Homo sapiens: one gene and its partners. The protein of the gene in region 2 purifies or fractionates together with the protein of the main gene of each other region. This does not show direct contact. Each region holds a gene or a part of one and is shown on either strand. Other genes may lie near its edges. The genes, in order: LNPEP, CLGN, SLC12A2 and TCTN2.

The links.
Region 1: the proteins of CLGN (region 2) and LNPEP purify together in Homo sapiens (co-immunoprecipitation; 2 studies listed by BioGRID and IntAct, with this or other methods). This does not show direct contact.
Region 3: the proteins of CLGN (region 2) and SLC12A2 purify together in Homo sapiens (co-immunoprecipitation; 3 studies listed by BioGRID and IntAct, with this or other methods). This does not show direct contact.
Region 4: the proteins of CLGN (region 2) and TCTN2 purify together in Homo sapiens (affinity purification with mass spectrometry; 3 studies listed by BioGRID and IntAct, with this or other methods). This does not show direct contact.

Annotation. Positions count from the first base shown.
Region 1 is NC_000005.10:97,030,075-97,037,101, forward strand, and holds part of LNPEP (leucyl-cystinyl aminopeptidase), read left to right. Parts: 3' UTR 1-7,027. UniProt on the Homo sapiens protein: Release of an N-terminal amino acid, cleaves before cysteine, leucine as well as other amino acids. Degrades peptide hormones such as oxytocin, vasopressin and angiotensin III, and plays a role in maintaining homeostasis during pregnancy.
Region 2 is NC_000004.12:140,417,638-140,424,664, forward strand, and holds part of CLGN (calmegin precursor), read right to left. Parts: intron 1-7,027. UniProt on the Homo sapiens protein: Functions during spermatogenesis as a chaperone for a range of client proteins that are important for sperm adhesion onto the egg zona pellucida and for subsequent penetration of the zona pellucida.
Region 3 is NC_000005.10:128,086,741-128,093,767, reverse strand, and holds part of SLC12A2 (solute carrier family 12 member 2), read right to left. Parts: intron 1-7,027. UniProt on the Homo sapiens protein: Cation-chloride cotransporter which mediates the electroneutral transport of chloride, potassium and/or sodium ions across the membrane. Plays a vital role in the regulation of ionic balance and cell volume.
Region 4 is NC_000012.12:123,666,550-123,674,125, reverse strand, and holds the start of TCTN2 (tectonic-2 isoform 1 precursor), read right to left. Parts: upstream 3,014-7,576; 5' UTR 2,886-3,013; coding exon 2,804-2,885; intron 2,620-2,803; coding exon 2,512-2,619; intron 2,071-2,511; coding exon 1,994-2,070; intron 512-1,993; coding exon 316-511; intron 1-315.

The DNA of each region.
Region 1 (7,027 bases), on a different chromosome or scaffold from region 2:
TCAAGTTAGAATGTATGGAATTGTGAATAAAATTATATTTTATTTTATGAAAATATTTTTATATAATAAAATTTAAAAGGCTGGTAAGCTAAAAAAATAGTCTTCTTTAATCCTAGTGTGTTTTCCCCAATTTAGTCTTTTCTAAAATTTATCTGTTTTAGAGTAGAAAATATTATATCCTGAGAATCACAGAATCATCTAAATATGTCTTATTCAACTGAAGTGATTGTAAGTCTTTATTCTTGTGCTTTGGTTAAATGAATGATAATTTAGTTGATAGTGAAAGTTAATGTGTTTTTATATTTTTAGAGTGAGGGAAAAATACTAAACTTTTGAGAGTTTTGTTGTCGTTGCTGGTTTTTTACCATGTGGTACTAAATTCCACTTTGATACAAAATTTAAATTTTGTAACTTCTCAAAATCACTTAAGATTCTTCAGTTTTACCTGTGCTTCTTGACATCGCTCCTATAATGTATGTTAGTTAACTCTGCATATGGCAAATCTTGTCTTGAATTATATCATTTCTCTCCCTCTCTCTCTCTCTCTGTGTGTGTGTGTGTGTGTGTGTGTGTGTGTGTGTGTGTGTGTGTGTGTAGTGTGGGGGGTATTGTTATGAGTAAAACTTTATCAAAACTTGGCCTGAAAAAGAGATAACTCATGATCCATTGCTATCTTTATTACTCAAAGGCTGTTCATTCCCATAATACCAGATCCATAATAGTTGTAGTTTTTTTGATGTTGTTGCCCTTACCTTAATTATTTGTAGTTTTAGTAGGCCTTGCCTCAGTTTTTCCCACAGAATTCCATAATTTTAATGTTGAACTAACCCATCTATATAGGACTTCTAAAAACTACGTCAGGAATGTAAGGTTAAATGAGAGGTAGAACTTGTAGTGTAATAGGTATAATGGTAGCTTTCAAAGTTTTATCTTCTCAAAACATTGTCTTAGCCAGTGTATTTCTGAGAACTCAGACTGAAGCACAGAAGTCACAGTATGCTTCTTTTATTTAAGCACACAGATTCATGACACAAGTACTTGTTGAACAAGTGTTCTCATTGCAGAGAGATCTACTTGAATATAAAAGGGTCATCATACTAGATTATTAAAAAAGAATTGGAAATCTTGAGTTGTGGAAGAAATGTTTATGCTTTGGAGATCTAAAAAAGTTATGAATGTAGGAATTAGATAAGTCCAGTTTGTTCTGTTAATATAAAATGGTTAGATATATTAAACTGCAAGTAGTATCAGCTTCACCATAAGCTTGGGCCTTCCTCCATCTTGTTTTATTTAAGTCTCTTTAAATGAAATTTTGTTGTCATTGTTTCAGCATTCATGAACTTTCTTACTATCACAGGTTCTACTTTAATTTTCCTTGCCATATGTGTTTCCATTTTGTGGGACATTAGCCACCACAGGAACACAAGAGTTGTCAGAAGACTCCTGGGTGTACAGAGCAAATCAAGCTGCATCAGTATTATAGGATACCAAACAGAATCCTTTCTATTAGGAAATAAGAAATCAGTTAAGTGTTGGCTGGGCGCGGTGGCTTATGCCTGTAATCCCAGCATTTTGGGATGCCAAGGTGGGCAGACCATTTGAGGCCAGGAGTTCTAAACCAGTTTGGCCGACATGGCAAAACCCCATCTCTACTAAAAATATAAAAATTAGCTGGGCATGGTGGTGCACACCTGTAATCCCAGCTACCTGGGAGGCACGAGAATCACTTGAACCCAGGAGGCGGAGGTTGCAGTGAGCCAAGGTTGTGCCACTGCACTCCAGCCTGGGTGACAAAGCGAGACTGTCTCAAAAAACAAAAAACAAAAAAAAAAGAGTTAAGTGTTGATTTTGTTGGATTACTGACAGTTTGTTGAGATGGATTTTAAAAAGAGTCTATTTAAACCAAAGTACCTGGAACCATAATCTGCCATCAGATTGCTAAACATTCACATAATCCCCATGTTTCATGGGGCTTCAGGGAAGGCAAATACATCTGAGATGAGCCACCTCCAAGGACAGCATTTCCTGGGCTGCAAAACTAGATGTGGATTTTGTTACTTAGGCCTCTCTAAAAACTGAGGCCATGGATATGACATAGCTTTTCTTCTCACCTATGCCTTTGTTACTTTTGTATTTATTGGAATTAAATCTCTTTTTAAAGAGCTTCCTTCCCCCTTCATCCCATTTGTATTTTTAAAAACTAAGTTATATATATATTTGCTTGTTTTTGCATTCTTTTATTTTGTGCTCCATTCCCTGCTTTGCCAGTTAAGTACTACCTGAAAAGTAGCGGTTCAAAAGTATGGTAAATCTCCTCCCTTAACCTTATTGCCTGTGTGGGTGACAGCTAATGGAAAAGTTGATCGATTTTTTTCAGTGGTTTTTTTGGGAGTATATACTTTAAAAATGTACATACATGTTTTTGATAGTTTTTATATTATTTCATTTTGTATATTTTTTTCCTGATGAAGAGTGATATATCATCCTATGAAAATTTCATCTACCCTTCCCATTTTACCTGTATGGGCAGTAGCTACAGACTAGTTATTTGGTTTCCTTCTTTGGAAGAAGGTGGTGATGTTGAGAGGAGAGCAAGCTATATTCTTTTAAAAGTGTGTACAGATGTTTTTGCTATTTTGTGTTATTTCATTTTGTATTTCATTCATCCATTTTGTGGACGTGTAGATAAAACGCGGTGGTCCAAAAGCATGACAGATGTCCCCTTTGCGTTTCTCCTTATTGTTCGCATGGACAATAACTGACAGAGTAGTCCTAGTTGCTGTTGTTTTGATCTAGTCTTGGGGCTGGGGTTGTATATTATTCTTTCAAGTGTGTATAAATATTGTGCCACCTTTTTATACTTCATTTTATACTTGTTTCCTTGTATGGATGCATATATACTTAATGAAAATTGAGGTTCAGAGTATGACAAATCTCTTTTCCCTTTTCCTTACTGCCTATTTAGGCAATAGCTAATAGAGTAGTTTGTTTTGTTTTGGGGTGTGGGGGAGAGTGGAGTATGTACTTAATGTATATAAATAAACTTGCTACTACATTGTATTACTAATTTGGTTCACACTGTGTCCTTCTCATGGATGTGAAAGTACCAATGAAATGTGGAGATCTCGATGTATAACAGTCTCCCATTCTCCTCATCCCTTATTGACTGCTGGGCAGTAGCTAACAGAGTAGTTGTCAAGTGGCGTATTTGAGGTGAGGGGGAGGGACGGGGAAGGTAGGAAAATGCACTTAATGTATATACATGTTTTTACTACTACATTGTATTAATTCATCGGGTGCCCAGACTGAAAGGTACCTAATGAACCATGGAGTTCCGGATGTATAACAGTCTCCTCTTTTCCCTTTCCCTTATTGCCCATGTGGGCAATACTTAAGAGTAGTTTGGGTTTATTGAAGATTTTTTGCTAGGAGAGAGAAAATTTTTTGCTAGGAGAGGTTTCAAGGTAAGAGTATATACTTTAAACATGTATATAAATGTTTTTGCTACTTTTCTGTCACTACCTTTCTTACCTTGTCCTTTACATGGATATATGAAGAAAATTGAGGTTCAGCCTGTAGCAGCTCTCCTCTTCTGCCCTTCCCTTAGATTGTCTGTGTGGGCAGGTGTCTAAGAGAGTAGTTGATTAGCTTCAGGGATTCTTTGGTGGGTGTTGGGGTATATACTTTTGTATATGTATGTACATATTTTTATTTCTTTATTATAGTGTTTCATTGGGTACCCGGTCCTTCACTTGGATGTGTAGGTTCCTAATGAGCCATGGAGTTATGGATGTATAACAATCTGTTCTCCCTTTACCCTTTTAATGTATATGGGCAATAATTTTAAAGTAGTTTGGATTTTTTTAAGTTTTGAGGGGTGGGAGGGGTCTAAGGCAGAATATATCCTTTTTAAAAATGTATATATACTTTTCATTAACTATATTGTATTATTTCATGCTGTACCCAGTCCATTGCTTGGACTTACGGGTACCTAATGAAACGTGGAGGTCCGGATGTATGAAAATCTCCTCTTTTCCCCTTTCCTTATTGCCTCTGTAGGCAATAATTATAGAGTAGTATAGATGGTTTTTCTTTTTTATCCATCTGCCTATCTCCAGGAGGATGGGGTGTGCACTTTTAGAAATGTATATAAATGTTCTTGCTCCTTTTTCCTGTTACTTCATTGTGTGCCAAGGCCTTTCCATGGATACTTAGGTACGTAATGAAAATTGAGGTTCATTCTATGAAAAAATCTCCCCTTCTCCCCTTCCCTTATTGCCTGTCTTGGCAATGGCCAGTAGAGTAGTTATTTAAGGGATTTTGTTTTTTTGTTTTTTTGTTTTTTTTTTGGTAGGGGAGGTGGGGAATTTCTGGGTTTGTCTTTTTTTTAATGTATATAAAAGTTTGCTAGTTGTTGTTATTGTTGTTCTTTCACTCTCAACACAGTTTTTTGTTTGGAGTTGTAGGAATCAAATGTAATGAGGGACCCAGACCCGAGAGTGTGGTAAATATTCTTTGCCTTCCTCAGAGCCTGTATACACAAGCAAGTAGTATGTGAGCACTACAGGGCTTGGGTTTTGGTTTTTTGCTTTTGAGGGTTTTAATGAGGAGTGGGATTGTTGAGAGGAAAAGGCAAGATATATAATTTTTTTAATGTATATAAATGTTTTGCTCCTTTTTGATGTTAACTTCATTTTGAATCTGGTCCTTTGTATGACCACTTAGGTACTTAATAGTAATAAAGTTGAGATTGACTCTATGAAAAATATCCCATACTCCCCATCCCTCATTGCCTAGGGGGCAATGGTAGAATAGATGTTTGGTTTCTTTTGGGGGTGTCTGAGTGTATATGTGTGTGTATATACACACAAGAACACACATATTTATATACTATACACACACATTTTAATGTATATAAATATTTGCTACATTCTGTGTGTTATATAATGTGGTACCCAGTCCTCTGCTGGGACATGGATGTACATAATGAAACATGGAGGTCCAGACGTATGATAACTCTCCTGTTTCCCTTCCCTCATTGCCTACAGGGGCAATAGTTTCATATCTTGGGTTTTTTATTGTTTAATTTTTTTTTATGGGGAGGGGTTCTTTGGGTGGGTAATAGTCAGGGGGAAAGGACAGTGTCTATACTTTTTAAAGATGTATATAAATGTTTCATGTTATTGGTTTTGTACCTAGTCCTTTGCATGGATATATAGGTACCTAATGAAAATCGAGGATCAGTGTATGACAAATCTCCCATCCTCCCCTTTCCTTATTGCCTGTGTCGGCAATAGGAAGTAGAATAGTTGTGTGTTGTTTACTTACTTGTCTGTTTTAGAGAGATTTCTATTTTTGGTAGGGGAATATTCTTAATATGTTTTCATATCTTTATTTCATTTTGTAGTCTTTTGCATGGCTATGTAGGGACCTAATGAAAGTCGAGTTTCATAATATGACAGCTCACTTCTTTTCCTACATATTTCCTCACTTAGCAGTAGCTAGTGTAGTTATTTTGTGGTTATTTTATTTCATTCTCTAGGATCTATTCCATTAAGGATGCAAGTGTGTAGATGCATATATATCATTTGCTTCTTTCTTCCGCCATTATTTTCCTTTAACACTTAGTCCCTTGCAAGGGGTCTGACTATACCTAACAAAAATAAAGACCTACTAAATCCCTGCCATCTGGCTGGAAGGTGTAGCAGTGTATTAATGTAACTAATAGCAACAGGTGTGCAGCAGATAAGACAGGAGAAGACACTCAGCTATGGTTGAGTTGTGAAAGCTAATTAGATCCAGCATTTCTTATGTTGATTCAGATTGAATGAGGTAGTGAAAAGGGACCTGTGCTTTTGTAAATTCTAGAAAGGCAAGAGGACAATATTGAATAAAGCTGTGTTTAAACTTCATTGCTCATATATCTTTTAGTAACTGGTAAACCGGCGAAGCTGATAAGCCAATAAGAGTGCTGTCTAGAACGCATTTGCAAACCGTTAAGAGTAGCTTCTTTTTGAGGCCTGGACTTCTGATTCATCTATAGAAGTCTATTATGATTCCATCAATTGCATAGCTTGTGTACCTGGTAGAAATTGTGTCTTGGAATGACCCTTTCGAGTTATTGACATGGCTCTGATGAATAGAACATGAGCCCCAAAACTAAATCCAAAAGGAATTTTCTATCTTTCATCCCCCACATGTGGCAAGACAAGTTGGCCCTTTCTTACCCAGAGGTCTTTTGTGTGACTGCATCTTTCTCCTCCGTTCTCCATTGTGTGCTTTCCATTTTGTCTTTAGTGCCTATACTGTTAGGTGTTTTCTTCACTGGCATTCACAAATTTAAGCCATTGCTGCCTCATTAGCCTTGTATTTTGTGTGCATATCATGTATCCAGACCTGTATGTTCGCTTTAAGCATTCTTATATCACACTGTCTCCTCATCTACCATATGGTAAATGTTAAAACTCCACATTTGTCTGCATCAGGGAAAATGCATGGGCACACATCCTCCCTCCCTCCCTCTCTGCTCTCCTCCCTTCCTTCAGGCCTCTTAGCATTGTTTGTTTTCCCATTTCTGATACTACTACTCCATGCTGAAGATTTGCCATATTACTATTTTGGAAACATTGAGTGATAGAACTCCTAGAAAATTTGCAAAGAAATGTTACATACTGTATATCAAACTCTCAGATTCTAGTGTTGAAAAAGTAGCCTATACTTTGCTATTACTTATACCTGCTGCCATAGAAAAAAATAAGTTTATTCATGACACATTTACATTTGATCATAAATAAAAGAAAAAAGGGCACCTTTTTGGAGTTAGTCATGGTAGTCATTAGTGATATTTCTGAACAGTTCTTAATTTAAAATACTTCAAAGGAAGTAAAGGTCATGGCTTAGCTGAAGGAAATGCTCCAGAAATTGGACTGTGTAAACCATCAGTACAATAATACGCTGTGTATGTATGTGTATATAAAATGAGAATTATGGCATAATTGGAGCATTTGCATTAATCAACAAACTCACA
Region 2 (7,027 bases):
TTACAAGGGATGTGAAGGACCTCTTCAAGGAGAACTACAAACCACTCCTCAATGAAATAAAAGAGGACACAAACAAATGGAAGAACATTCCATGCTCATGGGTAGGAAGAATCAATATCGTGAAAATGGCCATACTGCCCAAGGTAATTTACAGATTCAATGCCATCCCCATCAAGCTACCAATGCCTTTCTTCACAGAATTGGAAAAAACTACTTTAAAGTTCATATGGAACCAAAAAAGAGCCCGCATCGCCAAGTCAATCCTAAGCCAAAAGAATAAAGCTGGAGGCATCACACTACCTGACTTCAAACTATACTACAAGGCTACAGTAACCAAAACAGCATGGTACTGGTACCAAAACAGAGATATGGATCAATGGAACAAAACAGAGCCCTCAGAAATAACGCCGCATATCTACAACTATCTGATCTTTGACAAACCTGAGAAAAACAAGCAATGGGGAAAGGATTCCCTATTTAATAAATGGTGCTGGGAAAACTGGCTAGCCATATGTAGAAAGCTGAAACTGGATCCCTTCCTTACACCTTACACAAAAATTAATTCAAGATGGATTAAAGGCTTAAACGTTAGACCTAAAACCATAAAAACCCTAGAAGAAAACCTAGGCATTACCATTCAGGACATAGGCATGGGCAAGGACTTCATGTCTAAAACACCAAAAGCAATGGCAACAAAAGCCAAAATTGACAAATGGGATCTAATTAAACTAAAGAGCTTCTGCACAGCAAAAGAAACTACCATCAGAGTGAACAAGCAACCTACAAAATGGGAGAAAATTTTCACAACCTACTCATCTGACAAAGGGCTAATATCCAGAATCTACAATGAACTCAAACAAATTTACAAGAAAAAAACAAACAACCCCATCAAAAAGTGGGCGAAGGACATGAACAGACACTTCTCAAAAGAAGATATTTATGCAGCCAAAAAACACATGAAAAAATGCTCATCATCACTGGCCATCAGAGAAATGCAAATCAAAACCACAATGAGATACCATCTTACACCAGTTAGAATGGCAATCATTAAAAAGTCAGGAAACAACAGGTGCTGGAGAGGATGTGGAGAAATAGGAACACTTTTACACTGTTGGTGGGACTGTAAACTAGTTCAACCATTGTGGAAGTCAGTGTGGCGATTCCTCAGGGATCTAGAACTGGAAATACCATTTGACCCAGCCATCCCATTACTGGGTATATACCCAAAGGACTCTAAATCATGCTGCTATAAAGACTCATGCACACGTATGTTTATTGCGGCATTATTCACAATAGCAAAGACTTGGAACCAACCCAAATGTCCAACAATGATAGAATGGATTAAGAAAATATGGCACATATACACCATGGAATACTATGCAGCCATAAAAAATGATGAGTTCATGTCCTTTGTAGGGACATGGATGAAATTGGAAAACATCATTCTCAGTAAACTATTGCAAGAACAAAAAACCAAACACCGCATATTCTCACTCATAGGTGGGAATTGAACAATGAGATCACATGGACACAGGAAGGGGAATATCACACTCTGGGGACTGTTGTGGGGTGGGGGAACGGGGGAGGGATAGCATTGGGAGTTATACCTAATGCTAGATAACGAGTTAGTGGGTGCAGTGCACCAGTATGGCACATGTATACATATGTAACTAACCTGCACAATGTGCACATGTACCCTAAAACTTAAAGTATAATAAAAAAAAAATCTAAAGATAAAGATGATAGTAGTTATCAAACACAAATAATATGTAGACCTCTTTAAAAGTATCATGATTCCTAAATGTTCACTGAAATTGTTTTTATTATAATGTTGCTTAAGTGTATATAAACATAAAAATGGAAATTTTATAATTATAAAACCAAAATACATTTATATATAAATGCTGAGAAAAGATACAAAAATTTTTTTATCACAAATTTAATGTGGTAGAGTTTTACTAAAATCAAAGCACATTCAAAAGATCAAACAAATATAGGGCTTATTGTAATCAGGTAGACTGCTATGGAGAAAGTTCTTTTGCATATATAATTCCTATAATTCCACAATTACATAATTACTTATATATTTATGGACAAAGACAAAAATGATGGGTGCTGTCATTAACTAGGATTTGATCTCTCTAAATCACAAAAGAGGTATAACTGGGATAGGAAGTAAATGTAAAGGGATCAATTTGACACAATGAAATAGGCTTATTTCCTTAATTTCCTAGTTATTGGCACAGAAATTTGTATATCTGCAAATTGCTTATTAATTGTGAACTCTAAAAGCTTCATTGTTCTAAAAGCCTAAGGGCCTTCCATGTTACATAGTAAAAGGCACTTTGCTTGACTGGCTATTAATCATTTTTGAGCAAAATAAAAACACATAAAATAATACTACTAATAATGAACATTAATATAACTTTAGACCCATATCCTCTCTTTCAAATGAATGTACACTTTAGGTTCCAAACAATTAATTTGTTGAAAAAAAAACATTCTAAGTGCTTTGTTTGAACTCTGGTGTACTGGGCTGCCAAGAAAGAGTTAAGAGGAAGCCAAGCAGGTAGTGCTCTATCTGGAACTCTACCCTTAACTCAACCAGAGCACCCCAGTTTTATTTGTATTCTATATTATAGTTTTTCCTGACTTTTCCTTAGAAATAGTTGCCAATGCTTCAGAAAACAGTTCAGAAAACACTTTATCTTGAAAGTTTGTTTCTTCTTTAAAATTCTATGATCTTATATTTACATCAAAGAACTAGCTAATTTAATCTTTACAGCCCAGGACATGAATAGCGTAGGTACTATTCCTAATCAACAAAACAAAAACAGAGAGTTTTAAAGAACTGCAATTGGTTAGAAGGCATTCTGTAGACAATGCAGTTCTATTGTTTTTATTTGTTCTTTTTTTTAAAAAAAAAAATCAGAAATACAGACTTAATACTTTCTGCGTAATGCTGCAGTATCCTATCATTCTTCAGTGCTGCACCAGCTGACAATTGAGAATTAGATACTGAAGTTCACAGTCTTGAAATCTGTCTCACAATGGTGCCAACATGTTATTAAGTTCCAAACAAAACTATGAGGTTTGTGACATCTCATTTCTTAGAGAGAGGTATGCTATTGACAAGTCTGTACTGAAACTCTGAGAGGTCAGATGCTGGGGTAATACTACAAGAAAATGAAGTAGTTAATTTATGCATTTAAAATTGTTTTAAATCACGTGGTAAAACATTCTCATTGTTGTACAACTAATTTCCAAAACTTTCTTCATGCTCTAAAACTAAAACGCTATACACTTTTAACAACTCCCCACTACCCTTCCCTCCAGCCCCTGGAAACCATCTTTCTAATATCTATCTCTATGATTTTGACTACTCTAGGTACTGCATATAAGTGGAATCATACAGTATTGGTCTTTCTGTAACTGGCTTATTTTACTTAGCATAATGCCCTGAAGCTTCATCCATGTTGTAGCATGTATCAAATTTCCTTCCTTTTTAAAGCTGGACAGTATTCCATTGTGTGTATACACCACATTTTGTTTATACATTCATCTGTCAGTGGACACTTGGGTTGCTTCCACCTGTTGGCTGTTGTGAATAATCCTACAATGAATATGGGTATACAAATAACTCTTCGAGACCTTGTTTTCAATTCTTTTGAGTATATACCCATAAGTTGAATTGCTTGGTCATATGATAATTCTATTTTTTTTTGAATCCTCATACTGTTTTCCACAGTGGCTTTACCATTTTACCTTCCCACCAACAAGGCACAAGGGTTCCAATTTCTACACATCCTTGCCAACATTTGTTCAAAATTATGTTTTTTTAAATAGTAGTCATTGTAATAGGTCCTAATATGGCGTAGTATCATATTGTGGTTTGATTTGCATTTCCCTGATGATTAGTGATACTGAGTATCTTTTCATGTGCTTGTTGGCTATTTATACATCTTCAAGGGAAACATGTCTATTCAAGTCCTTTGCCTATTTAAAAAATCAGGTTTTGTTTTTGTTTTGAGTTGTAGGAGTTCCTACAAATTCTGGATACTGACCCCTTATCAAATATATGATTGGCAAATATTTTCTCCCATTGCATAGGTTTTTCATTTTGTTGTGTTCTTTGATGCACAGAACTTTTTAATTTTGAGTTTTCCAATTTATATATTTTTTCTTTTGTTGTCTGTGCTTTTGGTGTCATATAAAAATTACTGGCAAATTCAATGTCATGAAGCTTTCCATGTTTTCTTTTAACAGTTTTATAGTTTTCTTATGTTTAAGTCTTCAATCCATTTCGAGTTAATTTTTGTCTATGATTTAAGGTAAGGTTACAACCTCATTCTTTTGCATGTGGATAGCCAGTTTCCCCAATATCATCTCATGAGAAGACTGTCCTTTCTCACAAAATGGTCTTGGCACTTTTATAAAAAAAATTTGAACATATATGTGGGAATTTATTACTAGGCTCTTTATTGTATCCCATTGATATATATGTCTGTCTTTATGCCAGTCTCACACTGATTTGATTACTATAGCTTTGTAATAAGTTTTGAAACAGAGATGTGAGATTTCCAAACTTATTCTTTCCCAAGATTGTTCTGGCTATTTGGGGTCCCTTGAGATTCTATATGAATTTTACTATTCTTGCAAAAAGTGCTATTAGGATTATGACAGGGATTGCACTGAATCTGTAGATTACTTTGGGTTGTGTTTCCATCTTATTAAGTCTTCCAATCCCAATGAACACAATGTCTTTCCATTGATTAATATTTGTTTCTTAATTTCTTTCAGCAGCATTTCATAATTTTTCATGTACAAGTATTTTACTTCCTTGATTTATTCCTAAGTATTTTATTCTTTTTTATGTTGTTATAAATGGAATTGTTTTCTTAATTTCCTGTTCATTGTTAGTATACAGAAGTGCAACTAATTTTTGTGTGCTAGTTTTTTTACCCTGCAACTTTAGTGAATTCATTTGTTTGTTTTTTGAGATGGGATCTCACTCTGTTACCCAGGCTGGAGTGCAGTGGCACCATCATGGCCCATTGCAGCCTTGAACTCCTGGACTCAGGTGATCCTCCACTTCAGCCTCTCGAGTAGCTGGGACTACAGGCAAGCATCACCATGCCCAGCTAATGTTCTGTATTTTTCTGTAGAGATGGTTTTTGCCATGTTGCGCAGGCTGGTCTTAAACTCCTAGACTCAACTGATCTGGCTACCTTGGCCTCCAAAATTGCTGGGACTACAGGCATGAGCCACCATGCCTGGCCTTCATTTATTATTTCTAACAGACTTTTGTATTGTGTTCGTGAAATCTTTAGGGTTTTGTACATACATATAAGATCATGTTATCTGCTGAGATAATTTTACTTCTTCCTTTTCAATTTGAATGTCTTTTTTCTTTCTTTTTCTTCCCTAATTTCTCTGGCTCGGGAGAAGTGGAAAAAGCAGGCATCCTTGTCTTATTCTAGATCTTAAAGGAAAAGCTTTCAGTCTTTCACCATTTAGTCTGATGTTAACTGTGGGCTTTTCATATATGACCTTTACTATGTTGAGGTGGTTTCCTTCTATTCCTAGTGTACTGAGTGTTTTTTATTATGAAAGAGTGTTGAATCATGTCAAATGCTTTTTCTGCATGAATAAAGATGATCATGTGTTCTCCCCTCCCTACATTGTAAATGTGGCATGGTACACTGATTTTCTTATGTTGAATCATCCTTGAATTTTAGGAATAAATCCAACATGGTCATAGTATATAACTCTTTTAATATGCAGCTGAATTTTGTTGTCAAGTATTTTGTTAAGAATTTCTGCATCAATAATCATCTGGAATATTGCTCTGTAGTTTTCTTGTAGTGTCTTTGGCTTTGATAACAGGGTTATGCTGGCTTCATAGAATGAATCTGGAAGTGTTTACTCCTCTTCAATATTTCGGAAGAATTTGAGGAGGACTGGTGTTAATTCTTTCAATGTTTGGTAGAACTCACCAGTGAAGCCACCTAGTCCTGGGCTTTTATCTGCTGGGAAGTTTTTGTTTACTGATTCAATCTCCTTACCAGTTACAGGTCTGTTCAGATTTTCTACTTCTTCATGATTAATCTTGATAGAGTGTGTGTTTCTAAGAATGTATCCATTTAATCTAGGTTATCCAATTTGTTGCCATACAATCCTTCAGCGTATTCTCTTATAATCCCTCTTATTTCTGTAGAATCAGATGTAATGTCCTTTCATTACCAATTTTAGTTATTTGAGTCTTCTCTCATTTTTCTTAATCTAACTAAAGGTTTGTTAATTTTTTTGTTGACCTTTTCGAAGAATTAACTCTTGATTTCACTTGTTTTCTCTCTTGTTTTTCTATTTTCTATTTTGTTTCTCTCTGCTCTAATCTTTATTATTTCCCTCTTTCTTCTAACTTTTGGGTTTCATTTGCTCTTTTTCTAGTTCCTCAAGGTGTAAGTTAGGTTGTTAACTTGAGATCTTTTGTTTTTCATGTAAGTGCTTAAAGCTATAAATTTCCCTTTTAACACTGCTTTCACTGTATCCCATAAGTTTTGGTATCTTTTGTTCTCCTTTTCATTTGTCTCAAGATGTTTTTCTAACTTTTCTTGAGACTTATTTGGCTCATTGTTCAAGAGTGTGCTGTTTAATTTCCACATATTTGTGAATTTTTCTTGTTTTCCTTCTACTATTGATTTCTAGTTCCTTTCCTTTGTGTTCAGAAAACTTACTTTGTATGATTTCAATCTTTTAAAATTCATTAAGACTTGTTTTGTGGTCTAATATGGTCTATCCTGGAGAATGTTCTATGTGCAGTTAAGAAAAATGTGTGTTCTGCTATTGTTGGGTACAGTGTTGTCCATATGTTTATTATGTTTAGTTGGCTTGTGGTGTTATCTATTTCTTTATTGATCTGTATGGTTGTTTAAGTTATATAATTTTAGTACAGCAAGAATTTGTTTATATGGTATAGGGTAGAACATTTAGTGCTAATGTCACCCTCTTCCCTCCTTATAAATTA
Region 3 (7,027 bases), on a different chromosome or scaffold from region 2:
AAAGTCATTGCGGTTTTTGGCATTACTTTCAATGTCAAAAAATGCAATTACTTTTACACCAACCTAATAGGATGGTAGCAGCTTAGATGAAAAGAATATTTAGAAATTCAAGTTGACAGAACTCAGTGATTGGATGGGGGAATGAGAGAAAAGTGTCAAGGATGACTCATAGGTTTCTCACTTTTGCAGTATGATGAATAGTGGTACCATTCCGAGAGATATAGCACACACTGGCAGAGGGCCTGGATTCTTGTTTCTGGAGGGAATGGGAAGAAATACTAAGTTTGTGAGCTTGAGTTATCTTTGAGACATAAAACAAAAATGTCAAGCAAGCATTGGATACCCAGAACTCAGAGGAGTGTGGGTAGAAGACGAAATTTCGGGAGTCATTGGACTACAGATGATGTAGCATAAGGAGAGAAAAAAGAGGAACAAGGAAGGAGAAAAGTCCAAATAAAGCCTTGAGGATGTTCAGGTTAGAGAAGGAGGCGACTGCAAAGGATGCGAGGCTGAAAGAGTCAGAAAGGCAGAAGGAAAACTAAGAAGCCAAGGAAGTGACCAAAACACTTCAAAAGAACACCAAATGCTGCCTGAAAGCTGAACACTGCTCAAAACAAAACAAAACAGAACAAAACAAAAACTTCCTGAAATTTGTGATAAGAATGGAGATCACTTGTGACTTTAACAAGAACTATTTATGCAAAATAGAAGCCACACTACAGCAGTTTGAGTAAAAGGTAAGGAAGGAAAGACGGCAATTATAAACAATACTCTCAACAAGTCTGGCTGAGGAAGGAAGGAAAGAGCTTGTACCTGGAAAGGAATGAGAGTTAAATAAAATATTCCGCTTTTTCTGTCAGATAGAAGCTACTCAAATTTCTTTAACAGAAGTAAACTATTGACAGGAACAGTTAAATATCCAAGAAGAAAAATGAAAATCATAGGACCTCAGAACCAAACTGCCAAGTACTGTTTACATCTACACTGTCCAATATAGTAATCAAAGGTCACAAGGAGCTACTACTTCAACACCATTGAAATGTTTGTCTGAATTGAGATGTGCTGTACTGTATGTGAAAAACACACGGGGTTTCAAACTTTGTACAAAAAAAAGAAATTGAGATATCTCATTATAAATGTTTTAATATTCATTATATCTGCAATGAATGTTTTAGACACAGTGTCAAATAAAATACGGTATATTATAAATTAATTTTGCCTGATTCTTTACTTTTTTAAATGACATATGTAGTTCATATTATATTTCTATCGGACAGCACTGATAAAGACCTTAAATGGTAACAGGCCATAATCACAACAACTGCTAGTCCAAACTTCGGACTGGGGTCCTCAGTCCAGACATGCTCTGTGAAGTTTCCTACCTCTTTCCAAGACCGTCAGCCCTATAGCCCAATTCTTGAATTGCAGCTAAATGTTTTAATCACCCCCTTCCTCTCATCTTGGCTACTGCAATGGTTCCATTAAGATGATAATGGGCTTTTACCAAAGTGGTTGTGACTGATACAATGAGAGGTATTGAGATACTGGATGTGTTTCAAACGTATAATTGTTCAGATTTGCTGATAGTCTGGATGGGGATGTATGGACAGAGTAATACCTATTTAGAATGGAGTTGATATTAATGGAGAAGTCTGTGGGAAGGGCAGGTCTCTAATGATTAGGGTCCTCTAAGTCTTTCCCCACTGGAATACTCAAGCCTGCCCTGCCAAACCACCTACGCTCCCTTGCAAAAGTCTCCAAAATGGCTAGCATACCATACCAAATTCTGTTTGAAACTAAACTGATGGAAGAACTAATTCACACTTACCCAACAAAGAACTATCCCACAGGTTTCCAGAATTCTGAACCTAGATGAATATCTAATTTGTGACTATTCAGAAAAAGCACAGAATTTTTTTAAAAATTAAGGCAGGGAAATTTCTGAGTCCAATGATACTATGAGTGTACTAGCCATAATTAGCTTCTGCTGAGAGTCAACATTCCACTAAGCTATTTTTTCTTTTTGGCTTTCCCCCTTCTTCCAATTAGAAACCCCCAAGTTCTCTACCAGCTCCAAGTTTTTCATAATAGCTTTAAGCTAGTGTTGGTAGAGATCCTAGTGAAAATGGAAAAAGACAAAGGAGGGCCTCAGCTGATAGTAGCTTTCATGGTTTAAATGAGACACCACTAATGTTTTTAACTTCAGTATTTTAAGTAATTTTCCTTGTTGCTCACCCTCAGTGGGCTTTCACTTTGTGGAATCAACCCACTAGTTCCCTACCCCTTTGTACAGTATTTGAAAGACTACTAGTTTTCATGGTTTTACCTGAAGAGCAAAAGCACATTTTTACGCTAAAAATGAAAGCTGTTTTCTTAAGTTCTACTATTTAACAAACCAGTATCTGCAATTTTACCTGTTTGCCTCATTGGAGAACTAATTTGTAGAATGAAACCCTATCTTGAGTCCATCTCCCAAACCTGCCCTTCTCACAGACTTCTCCATTAATATCAACTCCATTCTAAATAGGGGGAAAACCCTAGTATTACTCTGTCCATACATCCCCTCATCCAAACCATCAGCAAATCCCAACAATTCTACCTCTGAAACACATCCAGCATCTGAACACCTCTCATTGTATCAATCACTACTACCTTAGTAAAAGTCATTATCATCTTAATGGAACCATTGCAGTAGGCTTCTAACTGGTTTCCTGCCTTCTACTCTTGCCCCCTTACAGTATATTCTCTACACAACAATCAGCGTGGTATTTTGAAAACATAAGTCAGATCATGTCAAATCTGTGCTCAAAACCCTACAATGCCTTCCCCTAAATCACTCAGAGTAAAATCCTAAGTCTTTATCATGATCTGCAAGGTTCTGCGCTATTTGGTCCTCACTACCCCCTGACTTTATCACACTGCCTCATCAATTCGGTCTTGCTGACCTCCCTGTCTCTCCATCACACCAAGCACACTCCCATCTCAGGGTCTTGGTATCTGTTGTTCCTCTGCCTAGAGTGTTCTTTCCCTGGTATCTGCATGGGGGTCACCCCTTTCTAGAGCCTGCTCACATATCAGAGGTCTTCCCTAACAATGCTAAAACAGCATCACCCAGCCATCATCTAGCCACCTTTAATTTTCCTCGCCCTGCTTTAATTTTGTTTGTTTATTGTCTCCTACCGCTAGAATGAAAGCCCCATGACTTTGTTTTGTTTACTGCTATATCCCCAGCATTTAGAACAGTGTTGTTGTTGATGTTCAACAAGGATTTGTTGAATAACTAGGTTCACATTTATTTCACTTCAGCATAGGACTATACTATAGACTTCCCAAATATATATATGTAACATATAATGAAATATCATTGAAAGCAAACACACTCCACACATAAGAACCAAGAAACTCTATTTTGGTCCTTTAAATTCTAGTCTCACAGGATTTTAAAATGTATGAACATAAATACACACAGAGAAGATATCAATTTAGCAGTGTACTGATTTTTTGCTACATTTTAAATCCCAAAATTTCTTTCCTTCTACCCAGGAAATTTTTATGCTAAAAATTAAAAGCTGTTTTCTATTTAACAAAGCAGTAGCTGCAATTTTACCTGTTTGCCGCATTGTAGAACTACTTCAGTCAGTGTACACCTGGGGGAATGCATTTAGTATTATGGGTAAGCCTGACTTCAATGGCAAGTAGCATGGGTTTAGCAGGGCAAAGCCCCTGGCAAAACTGTGAAATCAGCCAAATTTGACTTTGCCACATGTAAATATTTCTTATCAGGGTCCCACCTTTACCCAGTTCTGGACACTACTCTACTCTTCCCCTCACCCTCGAGAGACACATTCTTGTTCCCCCAGGGTGACTTTCAAGGACTAAAGCTATACACTGAAATGATTAATAGTGTGTGAAATTTCTTGACTAGGCATCAACACAGCCCACTCAGAGAAGCAGCTCATGGTTAGAGGAGATTCTGTAATTATTTAGTGTTTTACTTAAAGTCCTTGTTAAGTGACAGGAACTGCTCACCTGATTTGTACATTCCATGAACAAATCTTTATTAAGTGCCTATTCTCTGTATGAAGATAAACACTTATACAGATGCTAGTGAAGAAGTCATAATAATATTTACATCATCACATCTCTTGATTTCTGTCAGTTATATAATCATTCAACTCTCAGGAGTTCAAGGTAGAGAAATGGTGGTGGTAATCCCCAAGGGGTCCCCCTCAACATCTTTGTTATCTTAGAACAGGTCTAAGGGATAGAAAAGATAAAGAGAGAAGAACCTGCTGCTACTATGTCCTAGCATTAAAGTCAGAAAAACCTGGATGTGAAGTCCAAATTGAGCTGTACTACTATTTTTTTTTAGACAGGGTCTTGCTGTTTTGCCCATGCTGAAGCGCAGTGGCTGTTCACAGGCATAATCACAGTGCACTACAGTCTCAAACTCCTGGGCTCAAGCAATCCTCCTGCCTCAGCCTCCCAAGCAGCTGGGACAACAGGCTCCTACCATGGTGCCTGTCCTCCAGCTGCACTTTTTGTAAAAGTGGCTATTAAGCAATTTCTTGTGTTTCTTTCTTTTTTTTTTTTTTTTTGGAGACAAAGTTTTGCTCTTGTTGCCCAGGCTGGAGTGCAATGGCGCAATCTTGGCTCACTGCAATCTCCACCTCCTGGGTTCAAGCAATTCTCCTGCCTCAGCCACCCAAATAGCTGGGATTACAGGCATGCGCCACCACGCCTGGCTAATTTTGTATTTTTAGTAGAGACAGGGTTTCACCATGTTGTTAAGGCTGGTCTCGAACTTCTGACCTCAGGTGATCCACCCGCCTCGGCCTCCCAAAGTGCTGGGATTACAGGAGTGAGCCACCGCACCTGGCCAATTTCTTCTGTTTCTATTAGCTCATTTCATCTTGAGTAAAATGTGTATAAGACCTATTTCTTAGGAATTAATGAAAATCCAACAAGCAAAGTGACACATGAAAGACAATATAGTTGCTCCCTTGACCTTTCCCCTTGTTAATGAGAAAGGCAAAAATACAGGAATCATATAGAAACCCTTGACATACCACCAGCAAAAGGCTCCTAAGCCTTGGCCCAAGGACAACTGCAATGGTAATGCTACCTTTAAAAACAAAAATATTAGAAATTATGGTTTAGCAGTCAAAATAGTAAAACACAAAATAGTAAAACACACACACAAAAAACAAACAAACAAAAACAAAAAACTACTTTAATAATGCTTTAAATCCAGTAGGAGCTAGTATGGATTGTCTACCACTCCACTTTCCACATTTGATAATCTAGCATTCCATCATACATGTTGAAGATGTCCATCAAATACTTTGTTACCCTCCACCTTTTATTTCTTCTTGTAGGGCCAAAAATCCATACTTTGATTTTTCACTCTGTGTGTGTACGTATATACATTTTTAAATCAATTCCTAGCATCAGCTTTGAAGAGTTTCTGCCTTTCCAAAAACTCTTTTCTCTCAGCTTCCCCCAACACTGCTCTCCAGGCTATTTGACAGTATGGCAGCTCTTCCTTAATTTCCTTTGCTAATGGCTCCTCAATCTCTAACAGACCTTTAAACAATCTCCAAGTCCAATGCCAGACCCTATTTTCTGTTCTCTTATCTACCACTCTCCCTAAGTAATTTAGTCCATGACCTTAAGCAACCAAATCTTTATATGTAAATATATATATTTACATATGTTTATATACAGACACACACACACACACACACACACACACACACAGAGCCTCCTCCACGACTCTTGGAATAAGTTGTCTTTGTCTTTATAGGCTACTGAAACAGAATAGCCTCAAATACAAACTTCTCCCAACCACCAAATCTATTCCTCCTCCAGTATTTCTCATCTCAAGCAACAGTACCAACATCTATTAAGTTTCTCAAGTTCAAAATCTACAAGTCAGCTTCTTTCTCACTCCCACATCCAATCCTTTGTGCCACCAACCTTTACTATCTCTCAACCAGACCACAGTAATCACTTGAGTCTCTTTGCTTCCATTCTTGCCCCTGCCAATCCATTCTCCACCCAGAGCCTAAAGATGTTAAAACAAAATGGGTCATGTGGCTACCCCACACAAAATTCTTCAATAGCGTCCCACTACATTTATAATGAAAAATAGTTATCTCCTTTTAGTTATGTTAATATACCACTCTTTCTCACCCCATTACCTTCATGTGCGCTGTCCCTTTGGTCAGGACTGTCATTCCACCCAATCATCAACTTACCCTTCAGGTCTCAGCTTCAATGTCATACTTCTCAAAAAAACGCCTTCCCAAAACCCAATTAAAATTAGGTCCTATTCTATCTTTACAAGTATCCTTTTCTTTCGTAACACTTAAAAAACAGTTATTAACTATGTTATTTGTCCAACTACTTTGTTAATGTCTGTCTAGGCAGAAGCAGTAACTGGTTTGCTAATCACCACATAATCCCACAATGTCACAAGCATGTTGTCAACATCTAAGATACCCCCTTCCCCAATAACTCATAAATGGAGAACTCATGCCTACTGGTCCTAGAATGGCTATATAATATAGCAAGATGCACCAAGGATATTTATCTTTTCCCCTACAGTTGGACATCTAGACAAAATACTTTTAAAAAGTCAGTGATGGATAATGAAAGGAATTCAACTGGAGGGAAGACAATCCAGTCCTTTTCCCTAACAAGTTTCTGAAGTATTTTACTTCTTTTCTTCTTCTGTAGTTCCCAACACAGAGTTAGTCCCATGGTAGATAATTATGCACTTAGTAGACCAAAGTAGAGTATATGCCAATCAATCGACTGCTAGAATTAGGTGTTATAAAAATTCTAAATATTATAATTCACTGAAGGCTAGAAACATTACAGAAGGTGTTAGAGAGGTAGAAGTCAATTTAGACAGAGTAAGGGACAACTTCTGGGGATCCAGCCAACCTGTTATAACCCCTCCTGTCTGCCCCTCTTTCGACAGTGATGTATAGTCATATTTGTACTACTTAACACCCATTTC
Region 4 (7,576 bases), on a different chromosome or scaffold from region 2:
ATAAGTTTAGAAAAGCAAGACAGACTCAAGTGAAGTATACTTTACAAATTGCATGGCATACACTTATAATCAAACAGGTAAGCTTGACACAAATTTTTCTTTTTTTGTTTTTGTTTTTGGTTTTTTTTGAGACAGGGTCCCACTCTGTCACCCTGGCTGGAACGCAGTGGCGCGATCACAGCTCATTTGTAGCATTAACCTCCCGGGCAGCTCATTTATAGCATCAACCTCCCGGGCTCAAGCAATCCTCCTACCTCTTCCTCCTAAGTAGCTGGGAACAACATGAAAGTTTTGACAGTCAAAGACTTCACTTGCCTGAGGCATTATGGGTCAGAGAAGAGTTGGCATAAATTTCCACTTGAATGAGTAGATGTGCTGAACAGGATGAATTATGAGATGCTGAAACCAGAAGGGTCTGGAGGATACAGGGGGACTCTGAGAAGGAATCTGTCTCATTGGAGGAACACCAGTCCAGACCTCTCTTCCACCTCACTGTCACTTCCAACACCTTCTGAAAGGAAAACATTGCTGTATTTTTAAAGTGACTCAAAACAGGGTCTATAAGAATACATAATGGAAAACACAATAAAAGTACACATCAGCCTCCGTTCATTTTATAAAAGGGAAATGTATACAGAGATGACACAGTTATCTTCAGTTCCCCCCCATAAACCTATGGTAACATGCAAGCCCTGATTCTTCTTCCTTAACATAAAAGCAAACAACTTCGGGATACTTAGAGAAAGCTAAACACAGATCTGATAAATAAACTCAGTTTATTGTACACCTTTTTAGTTTCTTTATCATCCTATCAGTGGAAGAGTAAATACACAAAAAAAGTCAATGAAAACAATCCTCAGTTTATCCCAGAATGACTTTAGACATGTACATGTTCACTCCTGGGGTACAAGCAGAGCTTGTCTTTCCTGTCCTTTTCTCTCCAGAATTGATGTTGCATATACTAGGTATCCAATAAACACTTATTAAATAGAAGATGCTTAATCTCTCCAGGTTTGAGTATCCTTACACATAAGCTCAGAGTTGGGCAAGATCAGTGGTTATGAAGCTTTTTTTTTTGAGACGGAGTCTCGCTCATCACCCAAGCTGGAGTGCAGTGGCGTGATCTCGGCTCACTGCAATCTCTGCCTCCCGGGTTCAAGTGATTCTCCTGCCTCAGCCTCCAAAGTAGCTGAGATTACAGGCACCCGCCATCACGCCCAGCTAATTTTTGTATTTTTAGTAGAGATGGGTTTCACCATGTTGGCCAGACTGGTCTTGAACTCCTGACCTCAGATGATCCGCCCTCCTCGGCCTCCCAAAGTGCTAGGATTACAGGCGTGAGCCACCGCGCCTGACCAGCTTTTTCTTTTTTTTTAAGAGACAGGGTCTTGCTCTGTTGCCCAGGCTGGATGAAGTGCAGTGGTGCGATCATAGCTCTCTGCAGCCCTGAACTCCTGGGCTCAAATAATCCTCTTGCCTCAGCTACCCCACCCCCCTCCAAGTATCTGGGACTGTAGGTGTACGCCACCCACCTAATTTTTTTTTTAATTGTTTTGTAGAGACGAGGTCTCGCTATGTTACAGGCTGGTCTGGAACTCCTGGGCTCAAGCAATCCTCCCGCCTCAATCTCCCAAAGCGCTATGAGTACAGGCGTGAGCCACGATGCCTGGCATAAAGCTTTTTTGAATCACTGACCCATTTGATGATCTAAAGGAAACTGGTGACCCTCTCATCAGAAAAATGCACATACACACAGAACTTTACATACAATTTCATAGAGTTCACAGACCCACTGAAATACATCCAAGGACTCCTAACCCCAGGGTAAGGAACCCGTGGGCTGGATAAGTGTCTACCAGATCCAACAGCCCACAATTTCATGATTGTTGAGAGCATGGAGAAAGCCATGCCTTGTTAAATAAAGAGAGCACTGCAGAAACCCTAGCTGGGGGCCTCTTCACAGGCTACAGAGAAGGTTTACTTCTGGCCTTACCGCACCGGGGATCACAGTCACGCTCCAGTCTTCCGTCTCATTGTTCAGCACTCCACACGTCGGAATTGGCAATATTCCTAAAGAAAGAAGACCAGCATGCAAAGGCAGCAAGGTCCAGCAGCTCAGGGGGTGCATTGAGTCAGACTGCCTAGGATGGACTCACATTACAGCCTAAGATTGGGCCCTTTACAAGCTGCTTGACACTGGGACAGTGACAACCTCTCTGAACTTGTTTCTTCCTTGGTCAAAGGGGATGAAAAGATATTACTGTTCTTACTAGGAAAATGGGATGATGCACGATGTTAGCTCAATGAATGCTAACCATTATTATTTCAGGCTTTCTTCGAACCTGTCCGTCTGTCCTCTTTGGCCTACAGCAGCCGCCCGATCCTTTTCTCCCCATGCGACTTTGCAGAGAACAGAGGCAGGGGGCCCCAAGGATGCCACCTCTCCAGGCTCCTTGGGAGGTCTGGATCCAGTCCAACCCCCACCCTCCCCAAAAGAGGGCCGGACTTTACCCGCCTCGTCCTGCAGCACTGCCAGGGACACGGTCACACCCTCGGTGTCTCCGACCAGGGACGCGCTGACCGCAGGGCCGGACATTCGGATAAAAGGAGGGATGAAAGCTAGGCGGGAAGGAAAGGGGACAAGGAGGGGTTAGCAGTGGAAGAATCACCGCCTAAGGTGTGTGTGGCGGCTTGCTTTGGCGTTGTCGACTCCCGAAGCTCCCGGGGGAGTCCAAGTCTGGCCCTTTTAACGCCCAGTCCCCTCAGCCCCGGCCCACCGAGGTCACTGCCGCGCCGTACACACCCAGGTCCCCCCACAGAAGCCTCAGGATGCCCTGCAGAAGGAAAAGCCTCAAAAGAAGAGCGGCCGGAGGCTGGAAGCCCATGCCTTAGACCTCGCGGGCCGGGCACAGCAGAACCGCGCCCTCATTAGAACCCAGGAAGGACTCAGACACGAAAACGCAGCAGCCACTGCCCCGCCGCCGCCATCTTGCAAGCGAACGCCCGGAGCTATGGCAACCACCAATCGGCGGCCGGCCAGGAGGAACGCCGCGCTGTGATTGGACCAGTGGCAAGAGCGGGCACCCCGGCCCCGCCCACAAGGCCTAGCATTTTTGCTGCTTGACTCTGGTGGGGAGAGTGAGGGCTGAAAAACTACCTATCCGGTGCTCCACTTAGTACCTGGGTGACGAAACAATCTGTGCACCCAACCCCCGTGACACGCAATTTACCTATATAGCAACCTGTACATGGACCCCTGGGCCTAAAAGTTGAAAACATCAAAATTAAAAAGGTCCTGAAAAGCAGGAGTGCGTGTCCGGCTCAAAAACTGGAGTTTTCCCCTACCCTGGAATTAATCCAACAATAGCCAAGAGCGATCCTATAGACACTGGCTTCTAAATAAAAAGGGTGGGACTTGCTCCTTAATAAACTTGATTTTTATACGGATTTGTTTTAGGGGTGAGTAGAAAAAGGGGATGGGGCTGCCGCGCTGTGTTTATTATCTTTACTATCGTTTATGATGTATTATTTATATTTTATATTTTTATAAAATAAATATATATTTACAAAATAGATATACTTTGTTTTATATATATATATCAGATATACATACTTGATATATATAAAATACATATAGGCCGGGTCTGGCGGCTCATGCCTGTAATCCCAGCAATTTGGGAGGCCGAGGCGGGCGGATCACAATGTCAGGAGTCTGAGACCAGCCTGATCAACATGGTGAAACCCCGTCTCTACTAAAAATACAAAAAATTAGCCAGGCGTGGTGGCAGGCGCCTATTATCCCAGCTACTCAGGAGGCTGAGGCAGGAGAATTGTATGAATCTGGGAGGCGGAGGTTGCAGTGAGCCGCGATTGCACCACTGCACTCAAACCTGGGCGACAGAGCCAGACTCCGTCTCAAAAATATATTTATTTATTTATTTATCTTATAAAATATATATGTATTTATATTTTATCTTATATATATTTATCTTTTATATAAGTATATATTTTGTAAATTTTATACTTATATGTTATAATTTTATAAAATTTATATTTTTATAATTCTTATCATTATCATTTATTATCACTATTGCTTTTATTATCATTCTCCTAGGTTTTTGAAGGATTTTCTCCCCTGCACAGAGCTCTCAGCACTCTGAAAGCAGATCCAATCACAGAACACACAAGAGGTTTTGCCCAGCAATAGGACAGATGTGAAAGAATCAAAATTCTGTCTGGAAAAAAATTGTTTTTTCTTATATCAGTAGCCTCAGAACATTTCAAATATTGTCACGGCTTGGGGACTGAGAGTGCAGGGTCTGAGGTCAGGCTGCCTGGCATGGGATTTCGCCTTCCCTCCACAGATATTCTCAGCTGTTAAGTGACTTTGGGCAAGTCAACCTCTCTAAGTTTCAGCTTCCTCATCTATAAAAAAGGGATGATAATAATCCTTCCTTGGGGATTGTGTGAGGATGAAATGAGGTAACATATCTAATGAGGTTAAACCAATGGCTGGCATACAGTAAGCACTCAGTTAATGATCAGTTACTTGTTAACTATCAGAGAGGTGGTGTATCCTTTAGCTGAGACAATCATGGTGTTCAGCATTGTGGCTGACTGACGGTAAATGCCAAGTAAATGTTTGCCATTATTAGTCTTTTTTTTTTTTCTTTTTGAGACAGGGTCTCACTCTGTCACCCAGGCTGGAATGGTGCAGTGGCACAATCATAGCTCACTGCATCCTCAAACTTCTGGGCTCAGCTGATCCTCCCACCTCAGCCTCCCAAGTAACTGGCAATACACCACCACACCCGGCTAATTTTTGTATTTTTTATAGAGACGGGGTTTCACCATGTGGCCCAGGCTGGTCTCAAACTCCTGGGCTCAAGTGATCCTCCTGCCTTGGCCTCTAAAAGTGCTGGGATTACAGGTATGGGCCACCGTACCCAGCCCCATTATTACTCTTAATGTTCAGTTATATATTCATTGATCAGCAAATCTAACATTGTGAAAGGATTCTGAAAGTTGAGGCTTTATAAGGGCCTGACACTGGGTGTTATCTTTTTCTTATACTCCCTGAAAAACTGTGGGTCACTACAGTTGTAACATGAGCATGAAACTTTTCCCGTGTACCTCAGCTCCTCTCTGGAAGACTGCAAAATGTTTACCTCTCTTGATATCTTGGAATGAAGCCTAGGAGAACGTTACTAAGAGGAAGCTGTCAAACACTTAAATATTTCTGTTATTCCCCATCTGTCTTTGGGGGGAATTAATCTGCAAATTAAGTTGGCAAGGCCAAGCGGTAAAGATTAAGAGATAAATCCTCCCAAAAGAAAACATTTCTGGGCCGGGCTTGGTGGCTTATGCCTGTAATCCCTGCACTTTGGGTGGCAAAGGCACATGGATCACTTGAGGCCAGGAGTTCAAGACCAACCTGGGCAACACAGAGAAACCCATCTCTACCCAAAAATACAAAAATTATCTGGGCGTGGTGGCGCATGCCCGTACTCCCAGCTACTCGGGAGGCTGAGGCAGGAGAATCGCTTGAACCCAGGGGTCGGATGTTGCAGTGAGCCGAGATCGCGCTACTGCACTCCAGCCTGGGCAACAGAGTGAGACTTCATCTCAAAAAAAAAGATAGAAAACACTTGAAGCTGGTGATCAGCAGCTTCCCGATAAGATCTCAGGAGTTGGGCAAGCAGGCTCATGCATACATAGTAAGAGGCAAGATGGCAGATTTTAACTGGTATATAACCTTCCTCTGGGAAGGCTCGACTGGTAAAGGAAAATGCCTCAAATGAGCATGCGCACAACTTCAGTAAACACACTGCACATGCGGCCCCTCCCAAGTGCTGGCAGGCCACTGACATGCAGACAGCCCACCCCAAGGAAAAATCAAGGGAGGGCACAAACCTCAGAACCATGCTAATGTATAGAAACCCCCAGTGAAGGGTCGGACGGGGCACTTGAATCTCTCAAGTCGCCCGCTTGGCCCTCTTCCAAGTGTACTTTACTTCCTTTCATTCCTGCTCTAAAACTTTTTAATAAACGTTTACCCCTGCTTTAAACTTTGCCTTGGTCTCTCACTCTGCCTTATGCTGCTTGGCCAAATTCTTTCCTCTGAGGAGGCAAGAATCGAGTTGCTGCAGACCTGTACAGACTCGTCACTGCTAACGGTGATCCAGGGAATTCTCCAAGATCGTACCCAAGATCACCAAGGTGGCACCTCTACAAATATGTAAACTATTCATATCTTGAGTAGTAGACTAAAAGGCAAACCTATCAAAAATAATAACTACAGCTTTTTAAGACATAGTATAATAAGATATAAATATTGTAGAAACAAAAAGTTAAAAATCAGAGGGATGAAGTTAGAGTATTAGTTTTCTCTGCTTGTTTTTGCAATCAGAGTTGTCATCAGTTTAAAATAATGGGTTATAAGATGGTATTTGCAAGCCTCATGCTAAACTCATATCAAAAAGCCTACAACAGATACACAAAAATATAAAGCAAGAAATTAAAACATACCACCAGAGAAAATCACTTTCATAAAAAGGAAGATGGAAGGAAGGGAGGAAGGGAAGATCAGAAAACAAATTTAAAAATGGCAGTAGTAAGTCCTTACTTATAAATAATAACATTGAATGTAAATGGACTAAACTCTCCAATCAAAAGACATAGAGTGGCTGAATAGATTTAAAAAAAAAAGACCTAATGATTAGCTGCCTATAAAAACTCTTCACCTATAAAGACACACATAGACTAAAAATAAAGGGATGGAAAAAGATATTCTAATGGAAACCAAAAAAGAGCAAAAGTAGCTATATACTTATATCAGATAAAATAGATTTTAAGACTAGGTGTGATGGCTCATGCCTGTAATCCCAACACTTTGGGAGGCCGAGGCAAGAGGAACCCAGGAGTTGCTTGAGCCCAGGAGTTCAAGACCAGCCTGGACAATACAGCAAGATGCTATCTCCACAGAAAAAGAAAAAAAAGAGGCCAGGCGCAGTGGCTCACACCTGCAATCCGAGCACTTCGGGAGGCCAAGGTGAGTGGATCATCTGAGGTCAGGAGTTCAAGACAAGCCTAGCCAACATGGCGAAAACCCATCTCTATTAAAAATACAAATATTAGGCTGGGCTCGGTGGCTCATGCCTGTAATCCCAGCACTTTGGGAGGCCGAGGTGGGAGGATCACGAGGTCAGGAAACTGAGACCATCCTGGCTAACATGGTGAAACCTCATCTTTACTAAAAATACAAAAAAATTAGCTGGGCATGGTGGCAGGTGCCTGTAGTCCCAGCTACTTGGGAGGCTGAGGCAGGAGAATGGCGTGAACCCGGGAGGCAGAGCTTGCAGTGAGCTGAGAACACACCACTGCACTCCAGCCTGGGCGACAGAGCGAGACTCTGCCTAAAAAAAAAAAAAAAAAAAAATTAGCTGGTCGTGGTGGCAGGTGCCTGTAATTGCAGCTACTCGGGAGACTGAGGTGGGAGAATCACTTGAACCCGGGAGGTGGAGGTTGCAATGAGCTGAGATCATGCCACTGCACTCCATCCTGGGTGACAGAGTGA